2 linked regions of the Homo sapiens genome follow. The protein of the gene in region 1 interacts with the protein of each later gene in a pairwise test. Each region holds a gene or a part of one and is shown in the gene's direction. Other genes may lie near its edges.

The links.
Region 2: the proteins of BEND5 (region 1) and CTNNBIP1 interact in a two-hybrid assay, tested with the Homo sapiens proteins (one large-scale study listed by BioGRID and IntAct).

The regions. Positions count from the first base shown.
Region 1 is NC_000001.11:48,756,362-48,760,177, reverse strand, and holds part of BEND5 (BEN domain-containing protein 5), read left to right. Parts: intron 1-811; exon of another isoform or gene 812-893; coding exon 894-1,278; intron 1,279-3,816. UniProt on the Homo sapiens protein: Acts as a transcriptional repressor.
Region 2 is NC_000001.11:9,865,084-9,868,899, reverse strand, and holds part of CTNNBIP1 (beta-catenin-interacting protein 1), read left to right. Parts: intron 1-3,816. UniProt on the Homo sapiens protein: Prevents the interaction between CTNNB1 and TCF family members, and acts as a negative regulator of the Wnt signaling pathway.

The DNA.
Region 1 (3,816 bases):
TCCTGGATAATTCTCTTGTAAATGAACTTTCTTCTCTCTATCCACTGTCTTGCTGAGGAGAGTCTGGAAGGAGCCTTGTACTGGAAGTTAGATTCCAAATTCTGGTTTTGGCTCTGTTTGTATCTCACTATGTGACCCTAAGTGTAGTCCTTCCCTGAACTCTCTGACCCTCAGTTTTCTCACCTGTAACATGAGGCAGTTAAACTGAAAGTACCTTTCAATGCTAGAATTCTTTGAACTTTTCAGTTGAGTAAACATTTTTCAAGCCCCTACTGAGTGCCAGTTCTGAGTGAGTAGGCAGAGGAGAAACAGAGAAAATAAGACATGTTTTCTGCTCTAGATTAGAGTAGATTAGAGTTTTTAACATCCTTTCCATCTAAAGCATTGTCGATGAAAAGTTTACATGGTGAATTGCCTTTAGGGGAGGAATTTTATGTTTTTGTTGTTGAAGACATTTGTGAGTCCTCTGGGATCACTTGGCCTGGCCTCATTTCTCCCTGATTCTCCACAAATACATATTGAACACCCCCATGAGCAAGCCACTGCCTAGGCATTGTGGGTGGGCTGGGGCCTGGGGAGTTGGGAAGGGTGGTCATGGTATATGCATCCAGGAGGCAGAGTGGTGAAAAGGAAAAAGTGCAGGCCTGGGAAACCAGTGTCCTGGTTATGACTTTGGGCAAGCCCCTTCCCCACTCGGAACCCCATTTATAAAATTTATAAAATGTTTCCCCATTTATAAAATGAAGGGCTTTGACTAAGTGTTTGCACAGGTTTCTCCAAGCACTGATGTTCTGTGATTCTGTGATTTTAGGATTGTCTGGGGAAATATTGATCTGCAGTCCAAGAAAATCCCAGCTGCCCTTGCCTGAACTGATTCTCGTTGTCCTACACAGAGACCTGAGGGGCGGAAGCCGAGCGAAGTGGCGCACAAGAGCATCGAGGCAGTGGTGGCTCGGCTAGAGAAGCAGAACGGCCTGAGCCTGGGCCATAGCACGTGTCCGGAAGAGGTCTTCGTGGAGGCCTCGCCAGGCACAGAGGACATGGACAGTCTAGAAGATGCTGTGGTGCCCCGGGCTCTGTATGAGGAGCTGCTGCGCAACTACCAGCAGCAACAGGAAGAGATGCGCCACCTCCAGCAGGAGCTGGAGCGGACTCGGAGGCAGCTGGTACAACAGGCCAAGAAGCTCAAGGAGTACGGGGCACTTGTGTCTGAAATGAAGGAGCTCCGTGACCTTAACCGGAGGCTCCAGGACGTGCTGCTCCTGCGGCTTGGCAGCGGTGAGTGCCCCAGCAGGTCACCTACCACTCCACTTGGGTGAAATACTTCATGCAGATCCTCTTCCAGGAAGGGAAAGGGGAGAGGGAGACCAAGTGCCCTGAGGCTAGGGAAGGACAGACTCTTGGCTTACCAGTTACCTCAAGGAAGAGTCACTCCCCACTCATAGTGAATCTGGTAGGAGCTTATGTATGCAGCAGCCTCAGCTATGGGAACATTGGCGAACATGGGTCAGAGACTAAGAGCTGACAAAATATTTGTCACTGCTCAGTCCCTTATGCATTCATTCAGCAGGAGGCAGTAACAGGGATCGTAGGGAACCTCTCCAAGGAGGTTTCAGGATAGTAAAAAGAAGTAGACATGATCCTAACAACATGTATTAGTTTAAGTCAGAAAGTGATAAATGCCAAAGGAGAATGCTGACAAAATGATATGAGAATTCAGGGGTTGGAGAGGTTATTTGTAACTGAGGGCATGGAGAGACTTCAGTAAGAAACTGAGCTTTGAAGGTTGGGCAGTGTTTCAAGGCACAAGAGGAGGCTGAGCAGCACTGGTGAGCATGGGCAAATACCTGGAGCACACTAAGAGGAATAATGCAAATGTGCTTTGAGGACAGAAGATGGAAGGACTTGAAAACTTTACCAGCCTGGGATGTCTGGACTTGTTTTGGTAGGAATGGAAAGCATTAGAAAGCTTTGAGCAGGGAGGCACATGACCTTAGGAAGATGAATATAAAGACGTATAAAACTCCTTTGGTTTGCTCATAGAACTTAATAGGTTCTTATATTGCACCCTATTTTAACTAATCAGGTTTTCTGATCTAAAGTGGTTTAGAAGCAGGGATCGAGAAACCTGAAAGGCAGCAGCTTTGACTGCCGGAAGAAATGACTGCTTACCAGAGAGAAAAAGACAGAAAAATGCTTTTAGAATATAAGAATCCAGAACTGTAAAAGATAGAGCCCAGTCAATATTGAGGAAATCGGTATAACACAAGTTCTTTGCCTCCATAGCCCCTGAAGACAGTAATTAATAACTCTGAGTCAGTGTGCTTTGCTTGAAGAAGGTGGTAATCTAGTCTAGAAATATCCCCAAAGTTTAAATAAAATACAATTTTGCCCTTGTGAAGGTTTTCATTATCTAGATAATATATTTAGATATGAAGCTTCATTCTTCTTTGATTTATTCTTACCCTAATTTACTTATATTTGTAGGTGTCATTTGCTTCTTAAAGTATATCCCCAAGGTAGTGGCTCAGTAGATCTTTGGGTGGTCCAAGAAGTCAGCAGAGAGGCCTTTCATGCCCTTGTCATAGAAAAGGAAATGACATTGGGACTTCCCCAGAGTTACTTAGGGAGGCAGAGGTAGAGTTCTGTCTCAACTCTAGTCACTCAATTCATAGGCTGGACTTTGTCCACTCCCCAACTCTACCATTGCCTTGGCCATTGTCCCAAATCATAGTCTACAGAGGTTCACAGTGACACGAAAAGTCGCATATGGTTTGCAACTTCAAAAGTTAGTAAAGTTCTTTATTAAAATAAAATCTCAAAGAGAAATCATAAATGTAAAAATTTGTAAAAGCTGTATTGTTCTTGTAGTGGTGATGGGGGATGGGGATAACTGAAATTTTCAGAGAGAAAAAATGTTTCCCAATCTTAAAGTGAATAATTTGCATTTTCAGTGTGCTTTGTATGCTATGCCTTTTATGAACTTCTTGGGGGCTTGTGGGGAAGTACACCAAAAACAGAAATTCTTGGTACTTAATTCAACTCCCAGGGAAACTACCTGTTTTTCATGATTATGAACTGAGTTTAAACTCTAGAAACCACTCCTAAGCCTCTGGGGTGGTAAGACACCCTGCATTTTACATCATTATATGCCTCTTTTAGTCCTAAAACATGTAGAAAAACTTGACCTGAAGCATAGTTTCAGTGTCTTGATCTTTCTAGGCTCTCCCATCCCACAGGCCTTGAAGGCCATTGCACAGGCCAGTGGCTAGCTCTTCCCTGATCTGAGTCACCATCATCATTACAATGGGTTGGACTCAACATAAATCAACTGGAGCCCCAAGTATGCATAGACCACCCACCCTATCCTCTCAGGGCTACAGGCATCCTGGAAAATCACACCCACTGTCTCTCATCAGTGAAAGCTTAAAAGTCTATTGATTAACACATGTTAATAGGAGGATGCTAATGTGCCAACTTCCAAGACAAATCCGCAAGAATAAAATAAAAGGATCTCTACCCTTAAGAGGAGGTTGTATGTTTTCACGGCTTGGATTCAAATCCCAACTTCCCTACTTCCCAACTCTGTGGCTTTGGGAAGCTCATGTCCTTCTTTCCTTTCTTCCTTCCTTTCCTATGACCTTATTTTCTTCCATGAATACTTGCTGGTCTCCTGCTACATGCCAGGGACCTAGCCTAGTGTAAGAATTCAGTATATTTGCAATACAGCCCTTGCCCTCTGCCCTTGAGGAGTTTAAAGTTTGATGAGGGGAACAGATCCTGAAACAATCAATGACAGCACAGTACATAAATGCC
Region 2 (3,816 bases), about 39 Mb from region 1:
CTTTGGGAGGCCAAGGTGGGCAGATCACCTGAGGCCAGGAGTTCAAGACCAGCCTGGCCAACATGGCAACATCCTGTCTCTATTAAAAATACAAAAATTAGCTGAGCATGGTGGCAGGTGCCAGTAGTCCCAGCTACCCAGCTACTTGGGAGATTAAGGCAGGAGAACCGCTTGAATCTGGGAGGCGGAGCTTGCGATGAGCCAAGATCACACCACTTTACTCCAGCCTGGGCAACAGAGCTAGACTCTGTCTCAAAAAATAATAATAATAATAATTGTTAGGGGATAGGACTATATAAGAAACTTTAACTTTCCAAGTCACACATTTTTGTAAAACTAATATTTTAACATTGTACATTTGTTTCTTTGTCATAAGGGAAAGTTAAAAAAAATATTTTTAGGAGAACTCTTGCCTAGCCGAACCCACAGTTAAGAATAAAAATGAGCTCTGCCAAGTTGTTGAGGAAGGTCAGTGACCCCACTTAGCTGTTGACCTTGCCCTGAAACTGCTGAGCAGTAGGAGCAAGCTGGCAGCTGTGACCAACTGTGTGGGCCGTGGAGTCCAGGCCCTTCTGGGTGGGTGGTGTCTGTCCACAGCTACTTCTTTCTCCGGGGAGGGGTCTTCTGGAGCTGAAGCTGGAGCCAGGGAAGACCCCAGGGAATCGTTGCGGAATAGGTGGTGGGAGTCACTCCCTGCTGCTGGGGCGCCCTGTGGACTGCCCCTACCTCCATAAAGATACCTCTAACCTGGCTGCCGGGGCCTGAGCCACACAGACCTGAGCTGCAGGAGGTTCTGAGAATTCTGTGGACTGGGAGTGGAGAGGGGAGGGGTCAGCCATGTCTGGAAGAGTTTCATAAGCATATTTATTTTCTTTGCGAGCCTAACGACACCACAAACAAACACAACAACAATAACAGCAGAACTGCAATCAGCCCAGTCCCATACTGGGCTTACCCATGTGAGGGCAGGACCCTGCATCTGCCTGTGCCATGTGGGCAAATGGATCTCTGTTAAAATCTCACCTGCCCACCTTCTCCATCGCAGAGCCAATCTCAGCTGATGCTGCAGGATCCTGCTGTCAGAGGCTCAGACACTGCTTAGGTGGAAGAAGCCCTGGATTGTTGTCTCCAGGGACTGGGGCAGGATGCGGGGGCCAGAGCAGGGTGCAGAGACTGCCATAATGAACCCCAAAGGCCTGGAGCCTGTGGGTAATGGCCTGGCGTGCACCTCCTGCCCACTAGGTGGCGCTGTCTCTCAGCAAATGCTCCAGGCTGCTTTAGGTGTTCCCTGAGCCAGAGGAGGCTCCATCTACCCCGGGACTCCTCTAGCAGGGGGTCTGAGGCAGACCCTCCAACGGACAGCACCCGACCTTGGTCCTGAGGGTCTGGCCGCCACCTTTAGCCCTGCACATGCTTCCCCTCCAGGGCTGGATGGGTCTGGTACCTGGGGCACTGCTCCCTTACTTGAGGCCCAGGGAGGGGGCCGTGGGCACCCCTTTACCCCCTACCCTTCGATTCCTTCCTCGGTCACATTTGTTGAGTATCTATGGGGAGCCAGGCAGGTGCTGGAGACCCTGGGGTGGGGGCCTCCCCTTACGGGCTCACCAGGTGGTTCCAGCAGAGGCCCCAGTGGCCCCCCAGTTCCCAGCCTGCCTGGCCTCTGCTGGGCTGAGACCACCAATGACAGCCTCCTTTCCCTCCCTTGTCCTTCACGTCACCCCTCACTGGCTGTTTCCCACTCCCTTCCCTCAATCAGGGCTGTCATCCTCCAGGGTTGCCCCCTCTCTTCTCCCTGTTCCACACGCAGTGCTGTGATCTCAACAGAGAACATAGCCAGCTGACTGTTGGCCAGCATCACCACAGCCACCCATGCCCAGCTGACATGGATTTTCCACCTGTGCTCTGCCCTGACCAATGCCCAGCAAGTACACGGCGCCCGAGGACTCAGCCTCGACTCCTCTCTTCCTCAGGAACCTAATGGGTTACTGAGTCCATCCTAAGGCTCCCCAGACCTGCTTCATTCTCTCCCTCTCATTTCCAGCCCCCTCTTGGACTGAGCCCATATTCACTCTTGTCTCACAGCTTCAGATCACTCCTATCTGGCATCTCGACTTCCCATCTTGCCCCCTCAGGTCTGCTCTCTACCCCCACAGCTGGAGAGACTTTTGGAGGCTTAGAGTGACATTAGTGGGTCTCTACTCGACTTTTTTTTTTTTTTTTGAGAAGGAGTTTTGTTCTGTCACCCAGGCTGGAGTGCAGTGGCGTGATCTCGGCTCACTGCAGCCCCCACCTTCCCAGTTCAAGCAATTCTCCTGCCTCAGCCTCCCGAGTAGCTGGGGTTACAGGCTCCCGCCACCACACCCAGCTGATTAGAGACGGGGTTTCACCATGTTGCCCGGGCTGGTCTCAAACTCCTGACTTCAGGTGATCCATACACCTTGGCCTCCCAAAGTGCTGGGATTACAGGCGGGAGCCACCATGCCCAGCCTCCACCCAACTTAAAATCATTCAGTGGCTCCCCACTGCCTTGAGGATAAAATCCAGCCCCTTTAGCTTGGTGAGCAAGACCTGACCTCACACTGTAAAGGGCCATAGTGAATGGCCATGTTCATGCCTTTCTGCCACTGCATTTGCCTCTTGGCCGCCAGGAACCAGCCTTCACCCCCACCTTACTCCCCTGCCCCCTGCAACCTGGGCCAGGCCCTCCTGTCACATGTGCATGTACCTCAGCTGTGCTACACCCACACTGTCTCCTAATCCATCTATTGACCGGGCTCTGAGCTCCTTGAGCTTGGAACTGTGGCTTCCATCTTATTGTTTGTCATGTTTGGACAAATAAATGAACTGGGTTCTAGTCCCCAAGGGTGTCTAAGCAGACCTGGAAACCAGAGAGACTTGGCTTTGAACCAGAGGAAGTCAGTACTTCTCAGGAAGGTCGCCCTGCTGGGAAGGGGCAGCTGCAGGAATGGGGAGGTCCAGAGCTTCCTGAAGCAGGCCTGTGGAGTGCTGAGTCCAGGCTTCTCTCATGGTCAGTGTGGCTCCCTCTAATGCGTAGTGATTTTTTTCCCAGTTATAGAATTGTGCATAGTCATTTTAAAAAACTGGGGAAAGGGAGAAAGAGCAGAAAAGTTTGAAATATTGAATCCTACTGCATAGCTGTAATCACTCTTACCCTTTGTTAAGTTCCCTGTCATCCTTTCACAAACATGCATACATCTGTAGCACAAGGCTGGGACCATAAACATTTTAATACCTGTTTTTTTTTCTTGTTGTTTTTTTGTTTTGTTTTGTTTTTTGAGACAGAGTCTCGCTCTGTCACCCAGGCTGGAGTGCAATGGTGCGGTCTCGGCTCACTGCAAACTCCACCTCCCGGGTTCATGCCATTCTCCTGCCTCAGCTTCCTGAGTAGCTGGGACTACAGGCGCCCGCCACCACGCCTGGCTAATTTTTTATATATTTTTTTAGTAGAGACGGGGTTTCACCGTGTTAGCCAGGATGGTCTCAATCTCCTGACCTCGTGATCCACCTGCTTCGGCCCCCCAAAGTGCTGGGATTACAGGCGTGAGCCACCGCGCCCGGCCTTAATACCCATTTTTAACATCCATTTTTTACGCATGATAATTTCACTGTGTTCTTAAATAATTTCCAATAAAACTTTTTTTTTTTTTTTTGAGACAGAGTCTCACTCTGTTGCCCAGGCTGGAGTGCAGTGGTGCTATCTTGGCTCACTGCAACCTCCACCTCACAGGTTCAAGCAATTCTCTTGCCTTAGCCTCCCAGGTAGCTGGGATTACAGGTGCATGTCACCATGCCCAG